7 linked regions of the Homo sapiens genome follow. The protein of the gene in region 1 purifies or fractionates together with the protein of each later gene. This does not show direct contact. Each region holds a gene or a part of one and is shown in the gene's direction. Other genes may lie near its edges.

Region 1 (4,129 bases):
TCAAGAAAAAAAATTTTTTCCCCCTAAATTAGCTTCAGATACTTTTTTTTTGAAAACCAAAAAATAGTAAATAGCCCAGACACATTTATATGGATGATATCTACAAAGCACAAACATATATTTAGAAGCCCTTCAACAGTTACAAGCAGCGTAAAAGAGGAATGTAAATGTGTCCGGCAAAGACTCATTTATAACAAAACAACCCTGAAACATCCAAATAGGACTAATAAAAAGGGATCCTGGGATAAAGACTTTGGAATACTCCATTAACTTCACTGCTCACAAGTTCTGACTAGTTTCTTATAAGTAATAGGACATTTATAGCAGGATCTTTTATGTAAATCTCATGCCAGTAACTTGTACTTTTATCCTAAATAAAACTGTATGAGATTCTCATCTCACTACATAGGGTTACAAGTAACTTTTATGATATCTTTAAAAAGTTTCATGTTGAATATCACCTCCATAATTAAAAAATGGATGCATAGACTGAATTCATTCATTCATTTGACAAATATTCACTAAGCACCTACCACTTGTGAGATACTCTGTTAGGTGGGGATACAGTATGATAACTGTATGGAACTAACACTCCAAGTCAAACATTGAAGTCAAAATTCTGGGCTGGCGTACATTAGTTAGGAGCCCCCATTTTAGAAAATATTATTTCAAGCAGGCCTTGTTTTTATCCAGAGAGTGTATACAGTATAATAAAACTCAGTACACCAAGATTTATATTTCATGGCGTGTTTTTCTCCCTAAGTAGAGAAAAAGCTCCTTCAGTAAAGTGATTGTGTTGTCAACCACTGCATATTCTTAAGTGTACCAAGATGCTTGACTCCAGGCAGGTGCTAAGAGAGACTGTTGGGTGAGTGAATGTATATCAATGAAAATCAAACAGAGGAAATTTTCTTTATATGTTTTAGTGTTCCTGTGGTTTTTTTTTTTTTTTTTTTTTTTTTTTTTTTTTTTTTTTTTGTGATGGTTACTGGCTCTTCTCTAAGAATAATGGAGAAAAGGTGTTAGTTTGTACTGTCGCACAGGGCAGTCGTAGGAGACTCTGAAAAAGCAAATAAATCAATGTTAAATCAGAAATGTGAATGTAGTAAGGGGCTGAAGAGACAGGGGAAGAGAATACATGGGAAAATATTGAAAAGGACAGAGTGATCAAAAAGAGCAGGGACATGGGAGCATTGGGCAGCACACTGGGAGCCATTTCACTTTATGCTCTTATTGTATGATTGAGAAAAAAATGTCCTTAGTGGTTAAGTGGCTTTTCAATGCCACATCAGACTTGTTCCATAGCAGTTGAATTAGGGGAAGGTGAATAAGTTGGAGGTTGGTGACAAGGAGAGAAGCTGGAACAGAGAGGAGAGTCAGAACCAGAGGGAAATGAGAGACTGAGTAGGCATCTCAGGGTTTTTGAAGGAGTGGATTTTCTTTGTTGCAGTCAGGGGAGGTTTGTCTGTTGGCTGCAGAAAGAAGTCAGAATAGAGATATCGTGGGGTAGGTTTGTTTGGAACAGAAATCAAAGACCAATTTTTCTGAGAGAAGGAAATAACATCTGCAAATGATATGCTGTTTTTGCTACTTCCATTGTTAGCTGTTCTCCCAGGTGATGGCAATGCAGACGGTAAGAACTCTGACAACTGCCCAGTTGGGTGGTGGGTGAAGGTCTCTCTCTCTCTCTCTGTGTGTGTGTGTGTGTGTGTGTGTGTGTGTGTGTGTGTGTGTGTGTGGTTTCCCTAGCATATACCTGGAAAGTGAGAGTGCCAGGCTGGTTCCATTCTGACTATCCATGACTCCAGGTCCCTGAGCTCTTATGAAGGTGGTTGATAAGGCATGGGACTGTGTGGCAAGTGAATGTCTGCTAAGATCATGATGGATCCCCTTTTCTCCAGATTCTGAGTTCCCGCACTCTGGCACCTTTCTCTCTCCATCCTCTTTCTCAATGTCTTTCTCCCCATTCTATCTGTTCTTTTGTCGCAGGGCTCAAGGAGCCTCTCTCCTTCCATGTCACCTGGATCGCATCCTTTTACAACCATTCCTGGAAACAAAATCTGGTCTCAGGTTGGCTGAGTGATTTGCAGACTCATACCTGGGACAGCAATTCCAGCACCATCGTTTTCCTGTGCCCCTGGTCCAGGGGAAACTTCAGCAATGAGGAGTGGAAGGAACTGGAAACATTATTCCGTATACGCACCATTCGGTCATTTGAGGGAATTCGTAGATACGCCCATGAATTGCAGTTTGAATGTGAGTTCAGTTTTCTCCATGGAGAGTGGTGAGGTGGGAGAGAGGGGTTGTCTCAATGTTTCTTATTCCTTTAGGAAACAGCCTGACTCTCTTCTGTATCTTATTCTATTCTTTCCACCATAAAACTGCAATTGCATACTTTTGGGCAAGGGCTATCATCCAGACCTTAATTCTCCAAACACTTCTGCTACTTATGAACTCCTCTCTCATTGATTGCAGGGTTGTGCATTATTATCTTTTCTTACAGGTATCCCAGGACCACCCTTCTGCCTGCCCTACAACCAGATACCTTCAGCTTTCTCACTTTCTCATTCATTCTCTTCAGCAGTCTCTCTATATATACTCAATTGTAACCCATTGCATTTAATTCAACCTAAGTTGTTATAATCCCAGTTCTCTTACACCAGGTCCTTGCTCACCCACAGCATTCACATCACCTTCTTTGACCAGTTTGCCCTCTTCCTCATGTTATTAATCTTTTCCTCCACCTACAGCTCCCACCAATTCCTCTTTCTCTGAATCCCTGACCAAACCAAATTTTATTCCATTATGTCAAACCCTGCACACTTCCCCCTTCTGCTTCTATAATCTTTGCTTCTACTCATTTCATTTTATATTTTTTTCTCCCTCTTTCCTCTATTTCATAACCCCAGATCCTTTTGAGATACAGGTGACAGGAGGCTGTGAGCTGCACTCTGGAAAGGTCTCAGGAAGCTTCTTGCAGTTAGCTTATCAAGGATCAGACTTTGTGAGCTTCCAGAACAATTCATGGTTGCCATATCCAGTGGCTGGGAATATGGCCAAGCATTTCTGCAAAGTGCTCAATCAGAATCAGCATGAAAATGACATAACACACAATCTTCTCAGTGACACCTGCCCACGTTTCATCTTGGGTCTTCTTGATGCAGGAAAGGCACATCTCCAGCGGCAAGGTCAGTCCTGCACTCTCCCTCCAAGAAGTTTTGATTTGAAAATCATACCCTTCCACCACCTCCTTCCAATTTAGAATAAGGAAGAGCCACCCAGAAGTGGGAAAGGCTGGGTGCAGTGCCTCACATCTGTAATCCCAGTACTTTGGGAAGCTGAGGCTGGAGGACTTCTTAAGGGCAGGAGTCCCAGACCAGCCTGAGCAACAGAGTGAGACCAGTGTCTCTAAAAAATAAAAATAAGTTAGCCAGTCATGGTGGTACACACCTGTAGTCCCAGTTACTTAAGAGGCTGAGGCAGGAGGATCGCTTGAGCCTAACAGTTTGAGGTTACAGTGAGCTATAATTTATAATTATGCCACTGCATTGCAGCATAGTGACAGAGTGAGACCCTGTCTCAAAAAAAAAAAAAAGAGAAATGGGAACAATGTGTCTATCTAAACTTCTAAACTGTTGTGGAGATATGAAACTCCAAGTCTGTATTTGAATATCTTTTCTGTCCTTTGCAGTGAAGCCCGAGGCCTGGCTGTCCCATGGCCCCAGTCCTGGCCCTGGCCATCTGCAGCTTGTGTGCCATGTCTCAGGATTCTACCCAAAGCCCGTGTGGGTGATGTGGATGCGGGGTGAGCAGGAGCAGCAGGGCACTCAGCGAGGGGACATCTTGCCCAGTGCTGATGGGACATGGTATCTCCGCGCAACCCTGGAGGTGGCCGCTGGGGAGGCAGCTGACCTGTCCTGTCGGGTGAAGCACAGCAGTCTAGAGGGCCAGGACATCGTCCTCTACTGGGGTGAGAAAAAGCTAAGGCCCAGGCTGGAAATGCCAGGAAGTGGACCTCAGGCATAGAGGGAGGGCAAGCTGAAAATTTTAGGATTTTAGGGATTATAGCCCAAACATGAATAAAAATAGATAATCTAAGAAATGGAAATGTTGAAAATGAGGGCCCTGT
Region 2 (3,500 bases), on another chromosome or scaffold:
ATAACAGTAAAAATTGTTACACTTTTTCTTCTTTTTGTACTTACAAAATAAGTACATTTTCCAAAACAGTACAATTTAGTGGGAAGAATGACATTGTTATGCATTTTTCCAAATGTTTTTAGTATTTTGCTTAAGACAGGTGGATTCTCATATCTCCTTCTGCATTTAGTCTGTTACAATATGTAGTTTTAGCTGAAGCATATATAAAGGCAATCTGACATGATATAAAATTAGAAAAGAGAGTAGTATTTTGATGATAATTACAGATCACTGTGGATATTATTCCTTGATACTACATGAATACTTGATAAGGAGTAGCTTGTTTCCTAAATGTTTTTGGTAATGTGGACTCTGAATCCTCAACAATGACCTTTTGTACTTTATTACGTTAAAATCCATTGCTCTATCTTACACTTTGAGTGACCATTTTACCAGTACATCATTCTATATTGTGCATTGGTCATTTGGAAAATATTGGTTCACCAAGTAATGCAGAGCTTCCAAATATTGACACATTGCATTAAATAATATCAAAAAGATCACCTCTTTACTTCCATTGATATCACATTGGTTGATAAAGGTTTTCCAAGCTTCTCATTTTTGTTTGAAATCTCCAATTTATCATTGGCAACAAATAGTTGTTTTCCCTGAAGTGACAGATTAACTTTATGTTTTACAAAATACTTTCATAAAACTATAGTCTGCATAGCCATAGATGTCTATGTGAAAATAGCATTCTATGGAAAAAAAAAAAAAGCAAAAACTCAACAGCTTGTTCAGCTCCTAAATCAAACAATCACAGAAGTGCTTTTCTTTGAATAGATTCTTCTGAAATAATCAGTTGAAAACACTTGTCCAGTGAAGGTGTTTATCCAGTGGTGCTCTCTAGTAACTTTTTGACCTCAGGATTCCGGTTTTCTTCAGTTGCCTACAACCTTTTAGTCCCTTTAAACATCAGAATTTCTCTTCCATCTGAAGATAGCATAAGTTAATACTTAGGGTATCAAACTTCATTTCCTTGTTTCATTAGCCAGTTAATTATTTCCAATAAATTTTAGTTCACTACAAACAAAATATGTATTCCTTCTTGAAAGTACAGTAGCATGATGTTTTAAAATTTTTCAGTTGAAATAAGGCCATTATTTTTCAAGTCTACACATGTGATTGGTTATGAGGGAGGAGTAAATCTGGAAAATTATGTGTGTTAAAAGCAGGAAGATCAAGAGAAACTTTAGTTTTATTTTAGATAATGCCTAAGGAAAAGAAAGTTTCAGAGATGATGGAATTAAGGGAAGAATCTTTGTAAGAGAAGGGTGAACATTCTAGGTAGAAGATGAGGATAGATTTTAACATGCTATTTTGTCTTATGAAAAGAGATAAATTAGGTAGGAAAGGTAAGCATCACCATCTTATAGAAGAAGAAACCTAGACAAAGTGAATTTTCCAATTGCCCAAGATTGTGTCTCTTATTTTTGGAGTTGGAAATAGAACCCAAGTCTCCTAATGCTCAGTCCGGAAAGCATTATTACTGTATTGTTTTTAATTCTCCCATATCTCAATCACTTATGATAAATGAAAGTTATAAGGAGAAACACTTTAAAATATTTAAATGCTTCAGATGTTTAAAAATATTTTTTAAGGTAGTGATGAGTTTTCAACAATATCTGATAAATTGAAAGCCTTAAGAGCCAGATTCTATTTTCCACAGAAAGAAAAAAACCTACATAGCCCCAGACCTTTATCTTCATGTCAGTTTAGATGATCTCTTAAATGTAACATAAACCCTTAAAATCTATATTTTTTGCAGGAAGAAATTTCATTTTATTGTTTTGTTAAAAGACTATTTTAAGAGTCATTGCTGTCTATTTTTTTGAACATAAGAATGTACTTTGGCTAGGAGATAAAGGTTTTGATTAATTACCAGGCAATTTTAAATGCACTTGTGGCAAATAGCTCTTCTTTTTCTGTTGAATAAAGACAAAACCAATTGAATCTATATTCTGTAAGTTAATAGCACTATAAATTTGAGAAACTATTCAATTTTCATAAATTGATTAAAAATTCCTAGTGTGATTCTCCTGCCTCGCTTGAACCCGGGAGGCAGAGGTTGCAGTGAGCCAAGATCACACCACTGCACTCCAGCCTGGGCAACAGAGCGAGACTTCGTCTCAGAAAAGAAAAAGAAAGAAAAGAAAAGAAAAATTACTAGTGAGAGAAAATTCTTCTAATACACGAATGCTGTGAAATGTAATAATGCACTTCTTAAATTCTTAGTGCAAAAAAATTATGGAGTGTAAAGTAAGATTTCAATTATAATGTTGGTGCTTTCCCCCAATAATTAAATTCTTTTTTTGTTTTCAGTTAATTGACAAGTACCAGTTGAAAATAAAAGTACAAGACATGGATGGTCAGTATTTTGGTCTACAGACAACTTCAACTTGTATCATTAACATTGATGATGTAAATGACCACTTGCCAACATTTACTCGTACTTCTGTAAGTGTATGATATTAATTAAAGAAAAATGTATAGACCAGTTTTAATTGTTTAATATGCACATCTCTGGCCTGGCGCAGTGGCTCACGCCTGTAATCTCAGCACTTTGGGAGGCCGAGGCGGGCGGATCACCTGAGGTCAGGAGTTTGAGAACAGCCTGGCCAACATGGTGAAATCCCGTCTCTACAGAAAATACAAAAATTAGCCGGGCATGGTGACAGGCACCTGTAATCCCATCTACTCGGGAAGCTGAGGCAGGAGAATCGCCTGAACGTGGAAGGCAGAGGTTGCAGTGAAGGAAAAGAAAAAAATGCACATCCCCATCCACCCCTCATGATTTCAAATGAAGTGCCCCAGTGACATTAAAAGTTGTATAGTGCTAGGGTTTCAAATCATGTAAACATAGTACTTTGGAAATTAGAAGAGTAGGATTTACTTCACATCGTGTTCAATTTTTGTGAGAGTTACTAACGAAATTTTTTGTTTGCTTTTATTATTTTAGTATGTGACATCAGTGGAAGAAAATACAGTTGATGTGGAAATCTTACGAGTTACTGTTGAGGATAAGGACTTAGTGAATACTGCTAACTGGAGAGCTAATTATACCATTTTAAAGGGCAATGAAAATGGCAATTTTAAAATTGTAACAGATGCCAAAACCAATGAAGGAGTTCTTTGTGTAGTTAAGGTAAGAATAAATTAGAACATTATTTGTAGTTTATAATATCATAGAATAGCATGCTAGAATTTAATGGAAAGAAAGGAATTCTGATAAATGTAGAATAAAATAGGTATATAAGTAAATGCAAATGCTCTGTTCTTCATATACAATGGAAAGAATATATTAGTTTTTGATAATCTTTTGTTTAGGTATTTTTTTTTTTAAAAAGTCCATATAATACAATATCTATTTTGTAACCAATATCTTTAAATGGTTCAAAAACTAGCACAGCTTTGATGCCCCTGGGACAGTGCCAGACTTTTCCTAGCCCAGTTTTTCTGTG
Region 3 (3,500 bases), on another chromosome or scaffold:
GGAACGGACATTCCTAGTGCCACGTCTCTTCTCCCAGTCTCAGCTGACGTTGCCTTAATGTGCATCATTCCCAGCCCCAAGCCTGTCACCTCTCATAGGGTCCGTCCTATTTCTGGACCAGCCCCAAACCTGTCACCTCTCATAGGGCCTGTCCTGTTTCCCACTGATGTCCCGCTGGCATATCAAACTCAGCATGTCAAAAACCTGATCACTGCTGCCTCCTGCCAAATGGCCCCTTCCCAGATGACCTGTTTCAGTTCATGGCCATCACCCAGTCCTGTGGCATCTATGATGCCTGCATCTTCCTCCTACTGCCCGTTTTCCCCCTCAGTACACTGCTGAGCCATCAGCAGACCCCCTTCAACAGGTGCTGGCTGAGCAGCTGCTGGGATCTGGTTTTGTGTTGGGTGCTGGAGGTTCTGGGATGGGGGCTGGTCCCTACTCCTGGAGTAGGCGTCATCTAACCAGAGCCAGAGGGGCCTAGAAGAACTGCACATGTCATGTGCTGTGGAAATGGCAGAGCAGCCAGCAGCACAAGGGAGGAGCTCCGCCAGCACATTTCAGCAGGAAGAACCTTAGTCAGGCATGATCTGTCTCCTTCGTTGAGAGAGTAGGGCGTGAGTGTGATCAGAATTGTAAAACGTTTTGTATTTGACACAGTGGGTGGGCCCTGCCCTCTTTATCCCCATCCCTCACCCCACAGAGTGCCTTAAGTCCGATACCCACAGAACTTATTTCTGTTACCTGCCTGGCCTAGCCATTGAAGGATTTTAGAAGTTGCCATAAAATACACATAACACAAAAATTAGCAACATAATCCTTTTTAAATGTACAGTTCTGTGGCATTAAGTACATTCACAACCACCATCACCATCCGTCTCCAGAACTTTTTCATGTTCCCTGACTGAAACTCTTTACCCAATAAGTCCTCCTCACCCACTGCCCTCAGCACCTGCCCTTCTACTCTCTGTCTGTGTGATTTGACAGCTCTGTAACTCATGTAAGTGGAATCCTACAATATTTGTCTTTTTGTGACTGGCTTATTTCACTTAGTGAAATGCCTTTAAGGCTCATCCATGTTGTAGCACATGTCAGAATTTACTTCCTTTTTAAAACTGAATAATATTTCATTCAAAATTCAGTTCAGCTCTAAATTGAATTTTGTGTATCCATCTGTCGATGGATGTTTGGATTATTTCTCTCCTGTCTGTTGTGAATAATGCTTCAGTGAATGTGAGTGTGTAGATATCTCTTTAAGATCCTGATTTCAACTCTTTTAGAAGTGGGATTGCTGAACCATATGGTAGTTCCAGCTTTGATTTTCGGAGGAAGCTCCATGCTGTTTTCCAAGGCAGCTGCACCATCTGACTTTCCCACCAGCAGCGCACAAGGGTTCCAGTTTCTCCACATCCTCACTAATACTTGTTATTTTCTGTTTGTTTGATAGTGGCTGTCCTAATATATGATGTGATAGCTCATTGCAATTTTGCATTTTGCTAACGATTCATGATGTTGAGCCTCTTTTTGTATGCTTTTTATCTGTTATTTTTTAAACAGATTGCTATTTTTGTGGTTGACTTTTAAGAGTTCTTTATATATTCTAATTATTAACCCCTTTCAGAGCAGATGTACTATTTACCTGTTTTCTCCTGTTCTGTAGGTTGTGTTTTCATTTTGTTGATTGTTTCTTTTGCTGGGTAGAAGCCATTTAGTTAATGTAATTCCATTTGTTTATTTTTGCTTTTATTGCCTGTGCTTTTGGTGTCGTATCTAAGAAATCATTGCCAAATTCTTTATTATTTATCTTGGTGGATTTTGTGTTCAAGAATTTGTCCATTTCATCTAGGTTATCCAGTTTGTAGGCATACAGTTGTTCGTAGTACTCTCTTATAATCATTTTTATTCTGTAAAATAGGTAGTAATGTCCCCTCTTTCATTCCAGATTACAGCTATTTGAGTCTTCTTTCTTTATTCCTTAGTCAGTCTAGCTAAAGGTTTGACAGTTTTGTTGATTTTTGAAGAATCAAATTTTAGTTTCATTTATTTTCTCTATTTTTCTATTCTCTATCCTCCTGTAATCTTTATTATTTTCCTCCTCCTTTTTTACTTTTTTCCTCCTCCTTTTTTCCTCCTCCTTTTTCTAGCTTTATGTTTAGTTTGTTCTTTTACTAGTTACTTAAGGTGTACAGTTAGGTTGTTTGAGCCCTTTCTTCTTTTCTAAAGCAAGTGTTTACAGCTGTACATTTCCCTATTGGCACTGTTTTTGCTGCATCCCATAAGTTTTGGAAGGTTGTGTTTTTGTTTTCACTTATCTCAAGGTATTTTCTAATTTTCATTATGACTTCTTCTTTGACTCTTCAGTTGTTTAAGATTGGGCTGTGCTGAATTTCCACATAATTGTGAATTATCCAGTTTTCCTTCTGCTGTTGATTTCTGGTGTCACCCCATTGTGACTGGAAAAGATGCTTTGTATGGTTTGGATTGTTTAAAATGCATTAAGGCCTGTTTTGTAGCCCACCGTCTGGCGTTGCATGCAGGGCGCTCCGTTACACTCTTGCTCTGTAGTGTCGTTTGAGTCCTCTGTTTCTATATTGATCTTCTGTCTAATTTTTCTGTCCATTATTCAAAGTGGGACATTTCAGTCTCCTAGTATAATAATATTACTATTATTGATAGTTGTCTATTTCTCTTCAATTTTATCAGTGTCTGGTTCATATATTTAGGGGTTTTGATGTTTACTGTGTATATGTTTATAATTGTTTTATATTCCTGGTGAATTGACTATTTTATCATGATATAATGTACTTCTTTGTCTCTTGTGACAGTTTTTGACTTAAAGTCTCTTTTGTCTGATATTGGTACAGCAACCCCTGCTCTCCTTTGGTCACTCTTTGAATTGACTCTTTTCCATTCTTTTACTTTCAGCCCATATGTGTTCTTAGATCAAAAGTGAGCTTCTTGTAGATAGAATATACAGCTGACCTTTGAACAACATGGGTTAGGGATACCAACCCCTCACCTGCAGTTGAAAATCCAAGTGTAACTTCAGTCTAGAATGCAGTGGTGTAATCATGGCTTACTGCAGCCTTGAACTCCAAGGCTCAAGTGATCCTCCCACCTCAGCCTCCCCAAGGAGCTTGGGACTACAGGCGCACACCACCATGTCCAGCTAATTTTTTTATTTTTTGTAGAGACAGTGTCTCCCTATGCTGCCCAGGCTGGTCTCAAACTCCTGGGCTCAAGATATCCTCTCGCCTCCGCCTCCCAAACTAGTAGCCTACTGTTGAAGAAGCCTTACTGATAACATAAATAGTTGATTAACACATAGTTTGTATGTTATATTACTATAAGGTAAGCTAATGAACAGAAAATGTTATTATAATAAGAAATCATAAGAAAGAGAAAATGTATTTGCTATTTATTAAGTGGAAGTGGATTATCATAAAGGTCTTCATCTTCATTGTCTTCATGTTGAGTAAGCTAAGGAGGAGGTGAAAGAG
Region 4 (3,500 bases), on another chromosome or scaffold:
TGTGAGTTTGACTACTCTAGGTGCTTCATGTAGGCGGATGATATAATGTCTGTTCTCTTGTGTCTAGCTTGTTTTCCTTAGCCTCATCTCCTCAAAGTTCATCCATTTTACAGCATACATCAGAATTTCATTCCCTTTTATGGGCTGAATAATATTCCATCCCATGTATATACCACATTTTTTCTACCCATTCATCCATGGATGGACCCTTGGGGTTGCTTTTGGCTAGCGTGAGTAATGCTGTTATGAACACGGGTGTACAAACATCTCTTCAAGTCCTTGCTTTAAATTTTTGGGGTGTATATCCAGAAGTGGAATTGCTGGGTCTGATCATACCATAATTCTTTTTTGAGATGGAGTCTCACTCTGTTGCCCAGGGTGGAGTGCAGTGGTGTGATCTTGGCTCACTGCAACCTCCACCTCCCGGGTTCAAGTGATTCTCCTGCCTCAGCCTCCCAAGGAGCTGGAATTACAGGTGTGCACCACCTTGCCCAACTGATTTTTGTATTATTAGTAAAGACAGGGTTTCACCATGTTGACCAGGCTGGTCTTGAACTCCTGACCTCAAGTGATCCACCCACCTGGGCCTCCCAAAGTTATGGGATTGAAGGCATGAGCCACCACGCCCAGTCTGATCATATGATAATTCTGTGTCTAATTTATTTGAGGAACTGCTATACTATTTTCCATAGTAGCCACACCATTTTACATTCTCATTAAGAGTGCATAAGGGTTCCAGTTTCTCCACATCTTCACCAACACTTGTTATTTTCTCTCTGTGTGTATGCGTTGTGTGTGTTTAATAATAGCCACCCTAATGGATATGCAGTGGTCCAAAGTGACCTTTTTCTATTGTGTTTTGGATACTTGAATCACAAAGTCATATTTAGGAGAGCTCTTAGCACTCACATATCAGCACCTCATGCTCAAAACCTTGCATTGATTTCATGACCAGATAAATAAACATTCAGCTAAAATCCTTCTTGGTGCATGTAGCATTGTCTGTGGTGAAAGAATCAGACAACACAGCCCATCGTCTGAGCTTACTTGTGTGTGACCAGGAGCAATAGAAGCCTCTTGCCTGTCCATATATCATGCAGGCTTGCCCTGGCTTCAAACTTATGGGAGAAAAAGGGGCCAGGTTGGCATCCCTGTTATGTTCCCTCGAGGGTGCACTTTTCACTTTTCTGCCACCCTTTGATTTGGTAGTGTCTGACCCACCATTTAAAGTCAGGACAATGGTTTGAAAATGTCTGAAGCTGCATTGTCTCTGTTTTATTCTAAGGCAGGTTCCCTTGCTACTGGATTTGTTGTGAACCAACTTCTGCCTTTGAAAACCAACTCTGGAATTATTGCCATGTAGATGTGACAGTCACATTCTGATCAGCAGATGTTACTGTGTCTGGGGAGAGAGTTTAATGTGGCCTCATCTTCCTTTGTATTTGTGTGTTGGTTTTTCCCCAATTCTTCAGTAGTGGTTTTGACATCTTTTATCTCCCGCATTCATTCATTGCTTTATGTAGATTGATATTTTTTTATCCCAGGAAAATAATGATTCAAGTATCTGTTATGATGAGGATTTTTAAACTTTCTGTATTTCTTACTTTCTTTTTCTTTTTTTCAGAATGTTGTACCATCTTTGGGTAGGCAGACTTCCCTGACGACATCAGTGATACCCAAAGCTGAGCAGAGCGTGGCTTACAAAGACTTTATTTATTTTACTGTCTTTGAAGGAAACGTTCGCAACGTTTCTGAAGTCTCGGTTGAGTATTTATGCTCTCAGCCTTGTGTTGTCAATTTGGAAGCAGTTGTTTCATCTGAGTTCAGAAGTAGCATTCCCGTGTACAAAAAAAGGTGGAAGAATGAGAAACATCTTCACACCAGCAGGACACAAATAGTACATGTGAAATTTCCAAGCATTATGGTTTACAGAGATGATTATTTCATCAGACATTCCATCTCTGTATCTGCAGTGATAGTACGCGCCTGGATTACTCACAAATACAGTGGCAGAGACTGGAATGTTAAATGGGAGGAAAACTTGCTCCATGCTGTAGCAAAGAATTATACCCTCCTGCAGACCATCCCGCCTTTTGAACGCCCTTTCAAAGATCATCAAGTGTGCCTTGAGTGGAACATGGGTTATATTTGGAACCTTCGGGCAAACAGGATTCCACAGTGTCCTCTGGAAAATGGTAGGTCATCTATCTTGCTAGGAACCTAATTCTCATTTTTTCAGATAGCCTGTATCATGATCGAATGGCAAGAGAAAATTCTTCTATTAGCGAAGGGGGATACAGGGAAGATGGAGGGACACAATGAGTCTGTAACTTTGGAGTTTGAAGACAAAAGGAGAAAAATTAAAAGGGGAAGAGAGGAGAAAGATTAGGAGAGAGCAGGACCAAAGATGAAAGAACAGAACAGAGGAGCTGAGGAAGGTGGACTTTGAGAGGGTTAGATCTGCTTTAAGCTGGAAAGGAGTATTCATGCCACCGAAACAAGGATTGGGAAAATCTTCCCACTCACCTTCCAACAAGCCTGCTAAAGTTTCCTCTTTTTTTTTTTTTTTTTTTTTTGAGATGGAGTCTTGTTCTGTTGCCCAGGCTGGAGTGCAGTGGCGAGATCTCACTCGGCTCACTGCAACCTCCGCCTCCCAGGTTCAAGCAATTCTCCTGCCTCAGCCTCCCGAGTAGCTGGGATTACAGGCACCCACCACCATGCCAGGCTAATTTTTGTATTTTTAGTAGAGATGGGGTTTCACCATGTTGGCCAGGCTGGTCTCAAACTCCTGACCTCAGGCGATCTGCCTGCCTTAGCCTCCCAAAATGCTGGGATTACAGGTGTGAGCCACCATGCCGGGGCCTCTATTATTTTTAAGCAGAGTGTTTTATCCTGGAGGAGATGAGAACCTAAAGGAACCCTTCCAACAGAAAGGGAGGTTGTACCACAGAATGGTAACCTCTGGCTGGGCCTGATTCCTGTCCTGCCACTTTCTATCTCTGTAACCTTGGAAGTCTCTGAGCCTCAGTTTTCCTATCTGTAAAATGGGGATAACAAGCAGTTCCTTCAGAGCAGTGCTGTGAGGACTAAATGAGATGTGATTGCTCAGCACATCATCAGCACTCAGTGAGAAGCTGTGATGATGATAGAGTCCACACTCTGCATTTTATCCTAAATGCCACATGGTCACAGCCTCAGCAGGACCAATCCCGGAGGCTCCAAGGCCCTTCTGCAGCCTCCCTTAAGCCGTGGGGCTGGAGATCTCAGGCATGTGCTGAGAGGCGGCACTCTGAAGTTCTCTCCATTGGTGCAAGGAGCGCCTTGCTCTGTGGATGCCGAGTGCCTGCCAGCTCTTCTTCTGCCCCCTCAGTGGGGAGCCCTCCCCACACATGCGCCCAGTTGTTTCCTCAACTGTGGCCCTAGGACCACCTGTGACAGAATCACAAATGCTTGTTGCAAATGCAAATTCCTAGGCCCAGTCCTTCATCTACTTAGTCAGG
Region 5 (3,500 bases), on another chromosome or scaffold:
CCTGGGCAACAGAGAGAGACTCTGCCAAAAAAAAAAAAAAAAAAAAAAAAAAAAATCAGTGGACCTGGAAGGAGAAGAATGATTTAAGCCTAGACTCTGGTTTAAGCCTTGATTGTTTCTTTTTCTTTTTCTTTCTTTTCTTTTCTTCTTTTTTTTTTTGAGATAGGGTCTCACTCTGTCGCCCAGGCTGGAGTGCAGTGGCCTGATCTCATCAGCTCACTGCAACCTCTGCCTCCTGGGCTCAAGTGTTCCTTCCACCTCAGCCTCCTGAGTAGCTGGGACTACAAGCATCTACCACCACACCTGGATAATTTTTGTATTTTTTGTAGAGACGGGGTTTCACTATGTTGCCCAGGCTGATCTCGAACTCCTAAGCTCAAGGGATCCTCCCGCCTCAGCCTCCCAAAGTGCCAGGATTTACAGGCATGAGCCATCATGCCCAGCCTGAGCTTTAGGCATTTTACAGCATAGAAATGAGGTTATAATATAATGAAATAATATGGGCCAGGTGCGGTGGCTCACGCCTGTAATCCCAGCACTTTGGGAGGCCGAGACGGACAGATCACCTGAAGTCAGGAGTTCAAGACCAGCCTGGCCAATATGAAGAAATCTCATCTCTACTAAAAATACAAAAATTAGCCGGGTGTGGTGGCATGCGCCCTATAATCCCAGCTACTTGGGAGGCTGAGACAGAGGAATCGCTTGAACCCAGGAGGCAGAGGTTGCAGTGAGCCAAGATCGCACCATTGCACCCTAGCCTGGGCAACAAGAGTGAAACTCCATCAAAAAGAAAGAAAGAAAGAAAGAAAGAAAGAAAGAAAGAAAGAAAGAAAGAAAGAAAGAAATGTGGGAAAATGCTTCATAAACTGGCAAGGGCTATTGATTGTGAGGTGTTGTTATTACTGGTAAAGGTGGGGCTAAATGTGATCCTGGGAGCATCACTGCTGAGCAGCTGTGCTGTTGGTTGGTCTGGCTCAACAGAGTCCTCTAAGGATAGCTTGTCCTGATGCCTGGATCCTCAAGCTTCATGAGACGGTGGATCTAGGTCCAAGGTGGTCAGATGATCTCACCTACCAAAGTGTGTTTCCCCGATATTGAAGGGAATGAAAGACACACCAAAGAGGAGGACATCCTTTGATAGATGTCCACATTCTACTTTTATTGTTGAATAATTTTGGGCGCATATGTGCCGGATAGTATACTGAGTCCATGTACTTTTAAACTGCTGGATAAAGAACTGTGTGTGTATATATACCTGTTTGTCAGTTCAGTTTGCTTTGTTTTTCATTAAAATAGCATCTATAGGTACTCCATAATCCTGGGGTAGGGCATTGATGGTGTGATCACACCCACAGGTTGGGATTACCTGACCTTCTGTCCTCGACATTTTCCTTGGTGACATCCTACCAGGAAAGGATATGTCCCCCTTCAACTGCTGTGGGGGTTGGGATGCAGAGGCATGACCCCCTTTCTTCCCCTGCCCCTTCCTGACATGAGATGCTCTATGATAGAGGTAGCTGGGGCGGGGAGTGAAACAGAATGTGGGTTTTCGGGGAGGAAGTGTTGGGGTCACATGCTGCTTCTCCTGCTTTCTTACATAGGTGCTTCAGCGAAGAGTCCTGCGTCTCCATCCCTGAAGTGGAGGGCTACGTGGTCGTCCTTCAGCCTGACGCCCCCCAGATCCTGCTGAGTGGCACTGCTCATTTTGCCCGCCCAGCTGTGGACTTTGAGGGAACCAACGGCGTCCCTTTGTTCCCTGATCTTCAAATCACCTGCTCCATTTCTCACCAGGTGGAGGCCAAAAAGGATGAGAGTTGGCAGGGCACAGGTAAGGACGACTTCGGGGAGTAACACCATCCAGAGAACCAGCCAGTGTCTGGAGTCAGAGTGTGGGAGAACTCCTGGGGCTGGAAGCAGAAAGCGACTCCATCCTGTGTTTGTTTGACTGAACAACTTACCTTTAAGAAGGAGAGCAAGTGGAAAACACGTGGGTGGAAATGAATTGTTGCATAATGATATTCTTGAAAATGATGCTGACTTCCCTCTCCCTGGCCCTGGAAAGGGAGGGAGAGTGGTGATGAGGGCATGGTTGGGTCTCAGAACCTCCGTGGGCCCTTTGGCTCTGACCCAGACCCTACTATCCCCAACCCAGTGACAGACACACGCATGTCGGATGAGATTGTGCACAACCTGGATGGCTGTGAAATTTCTCTGGTGGGGGATGACCTGGATCCCGAGCGGGAAAGCCTGCTCCTGGACACAACCTCTCTGCAGCAGCGGGGGCTGGAGCTCACCAACACATCTGCCTACCTCACTATTGCTGGTCAGTGGGGCCTGAGGGCCTGTCCTCTGTGTGTGTGTGCCCCTCCCAAAAAGTAAGGGCCTAGGAAGCCCAGAGGGTCCTCCTTCCAGGTCCAGGGATGTGGACAAGTGCCGTTTTGCATTTTCCTAGCCTGGAAGATCCTCTGGCTTTGATTGTCCCTAGGGAAGGTGTGCTGGGTTTAGGCTCCGAATGCTTCTGTCTTCCTGCTCCTCTCCATAGCCTGGCTCACCTCCACTTCTGGTCCCACTCCTGTTTCCATTCAGGCTTCTCACCTTCCTCTCCTCCTTCGGCTCATCTCTGCCCAGCTTTCTAACCCTCTAGCTGTCTGTTTGTTACCGGTCATCTCTGTTGTTCAGCTCACTCATCTCACGTGCACACCAGAGCTTTACAAGAAGTACTCATCTCTTAGTGAATAGTGGGAGTGATGATTTGGTAGTTTCCAAAGGAAGCCAGGAGGGAGAATGGAGAAGATGGAGATAATCAGTTCCCTTCTATTTCCACTCCTTTCCAGGGCTCACTGAGGACTTCTGTATTTTCCTCTTTCTCATATTCCCTCCTGCTTGCCATCTCCCTTTCTGTCTTTCAGGATGTCTTTATCTCCTTCTTTCCATTCCTCCTCAGAACCTACAGAGCAGGAAATGGAGCCTTGATCTCTCCATCCTAGTTAGTCAGAGTGGGCAGGGATGGAGGGGAGCATCCCTCCCTTCGACCTCAGGTCGCACTTCTGCGGAGATGGGGCTGACCTGCTCTACAGCTTGTGTGGCGTCAGCTGGTGGGAGTCCAGGAGAGAGGGTCCTGCCCAGGTCCTGCCTCCACTGGCCCCTGCCCTGAGGTGCTTCCTCATCTCCAGGGGTGGAGAGCATCACTGTGTATGAAGAGATCCTGAGGCAGGCTCGTTATCGGCTGCGACACGGAGCTGCCCTCTACACCAGGAAGTTCCGGCTTTCCTGCTCGGAAATGAATGGCCGTTACTCCAGCAATGAATTCATCGTGGAGGTACCCAGAGAGTCTCCTTCCTTCCACAGTTACCCACCCCCAGAAAGGAGCTGAGGTGGCATGGACTCAAAATGTTAGTTGGTGGGCATGGACATGGCAGCGTGGAGGGCTGCTGGACCTTGCAGTGGGTGGAGGAGAAGGAGATGGGGGCAGTAGTTAGGAGATGGGGCTGGGGTCTAGA
Region 6 (4,101 bases), about 73 Mb from region 1:
TGTACACACGTATTTTGTCCCAGAGGCATCTGCTATGATTTATTAAACTGAAGCCAATAGCGCCCATTCTTAATGAATGAGCTGGCGTAGCTCCAATACACACACGGCACTGACACACAGGCTCAAGGCCTGCAGGGGCCTTTTTTCCCTCTGGGAGACACCTGACAGATCGCAGGTTGATCTTAAACAACTGGAAGCAAGATGTCAACGAGCAGATAAGATGGGCTTGCTCTTTTTTTCCATTCCAGGGATCCAATTTTTAGGAACTGTTGTATACGAGACATTAACCCGGGAGGTCAGGAAGCCTGATTTCCAGGCCTAAGATGTGCCAGGCGTCTCCCTCCGGGGGCGGGCTCCGCAAGCCGCCGGGCTGGTTGCTCGTCCGCCCGCCCCTCCCTCGCCCCTTCGGCATCCTCGGGAGGCCGGCGGCGGGAACAGGGCTGCCCCGGGCCACCTGCCATCTCCTCCGCCACCCTTCCAACAGTTGCTTCAGACTCAGGAGAGAGGCCGCCCTGGCCCCAGGAGCATGCTGTCAGCTCATTTCTCGACTCGCCGCCCTGCCCAAAGGCGGCTGCAGGAGGGCGCGCGGCGGCGTGGGTGGCAGCGGCGGGAAGCTGCCCGCCAGGACCCCTGGCCGAGCCGGCTCCCGCGGATCGCGCGCCGCAGCCGGAGGCGTGAGGCCCGGGCGACCCGTACCCCGGCCCGGGACCCCAGCCCCGCTGCCCCGCCGCCCCGGCCGACTCGGACGCCCGCCGCCGCCCACTCACCGCCGCACTCGGCAGAGTACTGGTCCCCCCAGTCCCCGGACTGCGGGCTGCAGCCGCCGCCGCCCGCCGGGGCCTCCTGCTGCTGCCGGTGCTGCAGCTCCTGCTTGAGCAGGGAGAGCGGCGAGTAGTGCTCGGTGGCCAGGGCGCCTGGCCGCAGCCCGGCGGACAGGACCCCCAGCAGCAGCAGCAGCAGGACACGCCGGGCGGCGCCCGCGGCGGCCACAGCGCCGCCCCAGAAGCAGCAGCAGCAGCAGCAGCCGGCAGGTGCCATCTTCCCTCAAGGCGCATGCGCGACAGCCCTTGCCCGGCTCTCAGGCCTCCCCGCCTCTAACCTACGGCGGGCAGGTGGACCGTGGCAAGGGGGCGGGACAAGGGGAGAAGCATTGTGTGCTGGGAATGGTAGTCCCAGCTCGGCCAGCCCGGGGCCGCCTTGCCGGTGCCGGGACTACGAATCCCAATAAGCCCGCGCGGCGCAAGTCTTCCGGTCTGGCGTCTGACGTCTTACCCTCCACAGAATCGGAAGTTCTGGACTGCAGTTGAGTGGAAATGGGCAACGGCGGGCGGAGCGGCCTGCAGCAGGGGAAGGGGAACGTGGATGGGGTGGCAGCGACTCCTACTGCTGCCTCGGCCTCCTGCCAGTACAGGTGCATCGAATGCAACCAGGAGGCCAAAGAGTTGTACCGAGACTATAACCACGGTGTGCTGAAGATAACCATCTGTGTGAGTTGTCAGGTGTGGGGTGCCCTTGAGAAGAAAATGGCGCGGCGGGATTTGGGGACCGCGAGGAGCAGGGTCCTCTGATACAGTCTTTAGTTCGGTAGTTGACATTCCCGCCCGGGATCTTTGCATGAATATCTGTACTGATAGAGAACTCAGCTACCCGACAGCGCTTTTCTCATACTGGGGCATATTTGGGTGATATGACCTAAGCCGGCGAACGGACCGGACCGACAGACAGAGGTAGATGTGGGCATTTTGCAGAGAAATTTAAAGATCAATTAGGTTGACATTTTGGTTCATGCCAAAGCTACTTCCTTCTAGCTCTTCTCCCTTTGACAGAGAGATGGTACCATCCTTACCCTCCACAACCCATGTTGAATTCACCTACGATGCTTTTTAAAGGTTTCATCAATTGTCGTTATTGGATGTCTACGGTGTACAAAGCACTATGCTAGACGTTGGTGGTACAAAACCCAAAAGTGAGGAAGTAAAAATTCTCATTTCAAGGTGTTCGTAGAATACCTTGAACTTTCTGATGATTTTCCATCTCAGAGTTAAGGCCCGAATCCCTGAACTGGCTTATAAGGCCCTATGGAGTCTCCTGCTACTCTTTCCCTTCTTTATTTTACGGCAGAGAGAATAATCTTATGTTTAAAGAGTCTACAAAGTTGGAGGTTCTTTGGGGGTATTAATTAGCAAAGAACCTGTCACAGAATAGACAGTACATTTTTGTCCCATTTCAGATCTTGTGATTTTCTAATCTCTTTAGTAAATTATGGTCTGTAGTAATATACAAGAGAATTGACAAACTGAGTGTATACCTGTATAATCTGCCAACCACATAACGTTCTGATGCATACAACCTCAATTTCCTGTTCCTCTCTCAAGTACTTTCCCTCTTTTGTCAAAATGTCAACCCTTGTTAAATCCAACATATTGCCTGGTCTTGTCCCTGTACCCATGCAGCAGTACGTTGCTGGGGAAAAACAAATTTGTGACGATTAACCTCATATAGGCCTTTCATGATTTCTGGCAATCTTATTTCGGTTTTTTTTTTCTTTCTTTCTTTCTTTTTGAGATAGAGTTTCCCTCTGTCACCCAGGCTGGAGTGCAGTGGGGCACTCTCAGCTCACTAAAACCTCTGCCTCCCAAGTTCAAGCAATTCTCCTGCCTCAGCCTCCCAAGTAGCTGGGATTACAGGCCTGCACCACCACGCCGGGCTAATTTTTGTATTTTTAGTAGAGACCAGGTTTCACCATGTTGACCAGGCTGGTCTTGAACTGACCTCAAATGATCCACCCACCTCGGCCTCCCAAAGTGCTGGGGTTACAGGCATGAGCCACTGCGAAAACAGAAGAGAACTTCCACCAGGTTTGCAACAACATAAACCCAATACTAGCATTTGTTATTTCTTTACTGTACTGTCTTCTTCTGCCTTCTGCTGGATCATTCCCACCAGCATGCATACTGTTACTTCTTCCATCAAAAAAAAAAAAAAAACCAACACCACCAACAAAATACACTTGCTGCCACTTCCCCCTTTAGCTTCTGCTCTTTTTCTTCTTAATTAGAAAGCAGACCTTCTAAGATATGTTTGTACTGTCTATTTCCTTTCCTAGTTTCTCTTGAACCTGCTTTAGTCACATTCCCACCCGCATTTCATTAGAAACTGTTCTTGTTAAGATCACCACTTCCACTTTGCTAAATCCAGTAGTCGATTCTCAGTTAATGATCAGCAGCATTTTACCTCATTACTTCCTCCTCCTTGAAATGCTGTGTGCGCTTCCCAGGATTCAGTGCTCTTCTTATTGTCTTCTTACTTCACTGGCTGTTACCCCTCAATCTCCTTTCTGCTTTTGCTTCACCTCCCTTACCTCTTAATCATGGTGTATTCCAACGCATAGTCATCGTGCCTCTTTCTGTCTGCATGCTTTCCCTTGAAGAGCTCATTCTGTCTCATGGCTTTAAATACCGTCAAAATTTTGACAATTTCCAAATTTATATTTCTACCCTGAACCTCTTCCCTGAACTCCAGACTTAAATGTCCAACTACCTACTTGACTTCTCCACTTGGATTTCAATAGACAGCTCAAATATACCCATCACAGTTAATGGCAACTTTACCATTTTAACTCCTAAGACCAAGAAACCTTGGTGTCATCCCTATTTCTACTCTTCCTCTCACATCCCATATTCAGGTATTCAGCAAATCCTGTTCTGTCTTCAAATTATGTTCAGAATCCACTACTTCTCACTACTCCTGCTGCTACAATCCTCATCCAAGCCACCATGATGTCTACCTGAACTATTGTTGTAACTCCTATCTGGTCTCCCTACATCATCCTTGTACCTCTTCAGTCTTCTCTCCACACAGTAGCCAGGGACTGATCCTTTAAAAATGTAATTTAGATCATATCATCTCTTTGACCAAAACTTTCTGATGATTTTCCATCTCAGAGTTAAGGCCTGAATCCCTGAACTGGCTTATAAGGCCCTATGGAGTCTCCTGCTACTCTTTCCCTTCTTTATTTTACCGGCAGTCCCGCTGGCATCCTGGTGTTTCTCAGACCAGGCAGGTTCCTTCCTCAAGGCCTTTGCACAATGCCTGGAGCAC
Region 7 (3,500 bases), on another chromosome or scaffold:
TTGTAAATGAAACGAGGAACAGAGAATCTGAGAGCTTTACTTTGTAGGGTGCCAAATGTGATTCTTTCTTACCTACATCTATTTGTCTTGGGATTTTTCTCTCTCTCTCTTCCTCAAGAGCCTTTTAGTCCTCCCCACACATTGCCTGCTTCTTTAGGGCTTGTTGCTCCTAATCTGAGGGGCCTCCAGGGTCAAAGAAGGTCCTCCCAGCATGGGGTCAGCACCTCTCTGAGTCCCACCACAGACTCCTGACTTCGTAACAGTGCTGTCTGTCTGCTGTAGCAAATCGTTAGAGCAGTCAGGAAGGATTCGGAGTCATGTTTGTGGAAGGAAGAGATTATTACAGTACCTGGAGGAAGGAGGAGGGGGGAAAGCCCAGATTTCAGTTCTTGCCCTTGAGCTGCAAATTCTCAAGGACTCTCCTCTAAATCTCCTGGAATCACTGTTAGAAATCCACATTCCAATGGAGAGCAGTGTAGGGTTATCAGATATATGAGGCCTTTCCTCCAACTCAGCTCTGACACTTTGAAAAAAAACTTCAGTATAAAACTGCAGAGTCAATCTCCATTTTAATAGTTTTGTTTTTCTTGTTTAGCACAAAAAAATTAGATCTCTCCAGCTGGCGAATCTAAAACTTCTCTTCCATATGTGCATAAGCACACACATCTGTATATGTTCACATGTACAGGCACACACTGTAGATGCCTCAGGACTGTAACCCCTCTCGAGTGGCCAGAAGTACCAGCCACGACCTACTTCAGAACCAACCGTGCCTTCTCTGAAGTTAGGCTGCTATAACTAAACAGCAGGTAGAGTTAGATGCTGCTTCCTTTGACACTCCCTGCCTTTAAAAGACTATGTCACCTCAAAGAATTTCTAAGGAGTTGTTTTCTTCTCTCCTTCCAGAGGGCCAGTTGAGAGTGGATGCCAATATATCCGTGCATCACCCTGGGGAGCCTTTGGGCGTTCGAACGGAAGTGAAGAATCTCAACAGCATCAGGTTCCTGGCCAAAGCCATAGGTGAATGCCAGCTGCCGCTCCTAGTGTCCTTCTTCCTATTGTTTCTCTCTTGCTGGGTAACAAACAACCCAGAAACTTAGTGGCTTACACAAGAACTACTTTCGTTTTCACTGGTCCGTTCTGTTGGTCCTGTGTCGGCTCACTCATGTGGCTGTGGGAAACCGGCAGGCCAGCTGAAGCAGAGGGTCCATGGTAGTCGCTCTCATACCTTGGGGCCTTGATGCTGATGTCTGCTGGGCTTCTCCATCCATGTGATCTTTCTTCATGCACTTGCCTAGCCTTGGCTTTCTTATGAGGCAGTGGGAGCATTTCGGGAGGATGAAGGCAGAAGTGAGTCCTAAGCTGTAGACCTCACACAGTGTCACTTCCAATGTGTTCTATTCAAAGTAGATTGAGGCCAGGCACAGTGCCTCATGCCTATAATCCCAGCACTTTGGGAAGCCAAGGTGGGTGGATTGCTTGAGGCCACGAGTTCAAGACCACCTGGGCAACATAGCAAGACCCCATCTCTATAAAAAATTAAAAATTTAGCCAGGCATGGTGGTGAGCACCTGTAGTCCCAGCTACTCAAGAGGCTGAGGTGGGAGGATCACTTGAGTCCAGGAGTTTGAGGTTGTAGTGAGCTGTGATCACGCCACTGCACTCTAGCCTGGGCGACAGAGCAAGACTCTGTCTCTAAGAAAAAAAAAGAAAATTACATTGAATTCAAAGCAGACTTGAGGGGAAATTAGACTCCACCTCTTTATCAGAGGATCCACAAAAGATCATGGCTGTGTTTTACCATTTACCACCTTCTTTCTGACCAGCTTGAGATTTACTAGGTCATGGTTGTTCATTTTAGATTGACCATGGCTTGACCTAAATGGTCATTATGTTTTCCTGCTTTTTATATTCTTTTTAACTGCTAGATTATGTGCCCATGCAGTGAAGTAGTAGTCTTTCTGGAGCACACACTGTGGGTATTTCTTTGATGATAAATGTATAATAACTAAAATAGTTTAGCAAGATAAATATCTGAGCAGTCCCGTAGATATAGGTAACTGTGAATTCAAGGGGAGGACCTCAGAGGACTAAAAAGATTTTTTAAAACCGAAGCTATCTAGAGAGGAAGAGGGAGGGATGGAGTTTGAAGTGCACCCCTTCAAGGGTGCACAGAGACCAAGACAACTGAATCTGTTGCCAAAGTTTTGCTGTAGCCAAAATGTTTAATAGAGCCCTGGTCTTGTCAAGAAAAGTATTAGAAACAGTACAGAAAAGATGATTCTAGTCTTGTATTAGACCTTATTGTCCTGAACCTGAAGTGAATCAACCACTCAATGAAGACAGTCTTCAGGAAAAAGGCATTAAAGTGGTCAAACGGATAGCTTATGGGAGCAGAGAGGGAAGGGATAGGCTCCTATATGAAGGCAGACTAAAGATGGTGAACTGTTCTGCATCCGGAAAGGGACATAGCCCATGTTCCCAAAGCCATGAAAGGTTTGAGTCAGGGAAAACCCTTATAAGCCAAGTTGGTGAGGAGGAAGCCTGGAACAAATGGAGGAAGTTCCACCTCCCCCTGTAGGTAGTGGGCTGGGACCCGTTATTTTAAGAGGTGGTGATGGTAACCTTAAAAAAGCAGCCCAATTTTAGGTAGAGTCATCCATGAGTTCTGAAGGAGACCCCTAACCTTCTCCTGTCCTATGAAGAACTCTTTGGAGGACCAGTCTGAGGGAGAAATCTCCCTGTGGTCTGACTCAGAGTGGAAGAGCCAAAGCTTTACTATGGGTTCAATTCTCCAAGCCTGTGATTTTTCACCACCTTTTTCTCCCTATGTCAGGCCATTTAGCCATCATCTCGTGTCAACCAAAGAGATCACTGGAGTTGGGGAGAGATGGGGAGCAAAAACTGACACGTTTTGCTGTTGCTGCCTCTTAGCAACTCAGATAAAAGGGTTTAGGTTTGGGCAAGGGAAGGTAGTACATGGTGGGAGGGAGAGTTAAGGTGGAGGCTCAAGATATTTTCATAAAGCAGTTTAGCAGGCTGGGCTTAGTGGCTCATGCCTGTAATCCCAGCACTTTGGGAGGCCAAGGCAGGAGGATTGTTTGAGACCAAGAGATTGAGACTAGGCTGGAAAACATAGTGAGACCCCCATCTCTCAAAAAAAGAAAAAAAAAGCAGCAACAGCTTAGCAATTGTGGTTGTGTTTTGATTCCCACAGCCTCCCTCATTTGATGCTGAGGCATGGGTCCTTGGATCTTAATCATTTGGGGTCGTGGGTCCCTCTGAAAAGATAATGTAAATGCTGGACCCTCTCTCCAAAACCTGCACATATGCACACAACCCACACTTTGTGTATAATTTTGGGGATACCAGAGCCTTTGAAGCCCATCCCAGACTCCCAGGGTAAGGGCCCTGGGTAGGCAGCAATCTCAGACCGAGATATTGGGCCCAGCCCCACTTCTGCCAAGTCATGTCATCTGCATGGGGTTGCTTAATCTCTC

What was found.
Region 2: the proteins of CD1A (region 1) and DSC2 purify together in Homo sapiens (affinity purification with mass spectrometry; one large-scale study listed by BioGRID and IntAct). This does not show direct contact.
Region 3: the proteins of CD1A (region 1) and ENTPD6 purify together in Homo sapiens (affinity purification with mass spectrometry; one large-scale study listed by BioGRID and IntAct). This does not show direct contact.
Region 4: the proteins of CD1A (region 1) and SEL1L3 purify together in Homo sapiens (affinity purification with mass spectrometry; one large-scale study listed by BioGRID and IntAct). This does not show direct contact.
Region 5: the proteins of CD1A (region 1) and CLSTN3 purify together in Homo sapiens (affinity purification with mass spectrometry; one large-scale study listed by BioGRID and IntAct). This does not show direct contact.
Region 6: the proteins of CD1A (region 1) and ARV1 purify together in Homo sapiens (affinity purification with mass spectrometry; one large-scale study listed by BioGRID and IntAct). This does not show direct contact.
Region 7: the proteins of CD1A (region 1) and GATB purify together in Homo sapiens (affinity purification with mass spectrometry; one large-scale study listed by BioGRID and IntAct). This does not show direct contact.

What each region holds. Positions count from the first base shown.
Region 1 is NC_000001.11:158,253,095-158,257,223, forward strand, and holds the start of CD1A (T-cell surface glycoprotein CD1a isoform 1 precursor), read left to right. Parts: upstream 1-1,329; 5' UTR 1,330-1,575; coding exon 1,576-1,633; intron 1,634-1,989; coding exon 1,990-2,256; intron 2,257-2,909; coding exon 2,910-3,188; intron 3,189-3,691; coding exon 3,692-3,970; intron 3,971-4,129. UniProt on the Homo sapiens protein: Antigen-presenting protein that binds self and non-self lipid and glycolipid antigens and presents them to T-cell receptors on natural killer T-cells.
Region 2 is NC_000018.10:31,081,922-31,085,421, reverse strand, and holds part of DSC2 (desmocollin-2 isoform Dsc2a preproprotein), read left to right. Parts: intron 1-2,361; coding exon 2,362-2,496; intron 2,497-2,998; coding exon 2,999-3,184; intron 3,185-3,500. UniProt on the Homo sapiens protein: A component of desmosome cell-cell junctions which are required for positive regulation of cellular adhesion.
Region 3 is NC_000020.11:25,198,712-25,202,211, forward strand, and holds part of ENTPD6 (ectonucleoside triphosphate diphosphohydrolase 6), read left to right. Parts: intron 1-3,500. UniProt on the Homo sapiens protein: Catalyzes the hydrolysis of nucleoside triphosphates and diphosphates in a calcium- or magnesium-dependent manner.
Region 4 is NC_000004.12:25,845,989-25,849,488, reverse strand, and holds part of SEL1L3 (protein sel-1 homolog 3), read left to right. Parts: intron 1-1,624; coding exon 1,625-2,195; intron 2,196-3,500.
Region 5 is NC_000012.12:7,147,371-7,150,870, forward strand, and holds part of CLSTN3 (calsyntenin-3 precursor), read left to right. Parts: intron 1-1,601; coding exon 1,602-1,828; intron 1,829-2,152; coding exon 2,153-2,323; intron 2,324-3,173; coding exon 3,174-3,319; intron 3,320-3,500. UniProt on the Homo sapiens protein: Postsynaptic adhesion molecule that binds to presynaptic neurexins to mediate both excitatory and inhibitory synapse formation.
Region 6 is NC_000001.11:230,977,793-230,981,893, forward strand, and holds the start of ARV1 (protein ARV1), read left to right. Parts: upstream 1-1,301; 5' UTR 1,302-1,313; coding exon 1,314-1,487; intron 1,488-4,101. Other genes in the region: TTC13 (tetratricopeptide repeat protein 13 isoform a precursor), read right to left, coding at 768-1,038. UniProt on the Homo sapiens protein: Plays a role as a mediator in the endoplasmic reticulum (ER) cholesterol and bile acid homeostasis. Participates in sterol transport out of the ER and distribution into plasma membranes.
Region 7 is NC_000004.12:151,705,508-151,709,007, reverse strand, and holds part of GATB (glutamyl-tRNA(Gln) amidotransferase subunit B, mitochondrial isoform 1 precursor), read left to right. Parts: intron 1-906; coding exon 907-1,020; intron 1,021-3,500. UniProt on the Homo sapiens protein: Allows the formation of correctly charged Gln-tRNA(Gln) through the transamidation of misacylated Glu-tRNA(Gln) in the mitochondria. The reaction takes place in the presence of glutamine and ATP through an activated gamma-phospho-Glu-tRNA(Gln).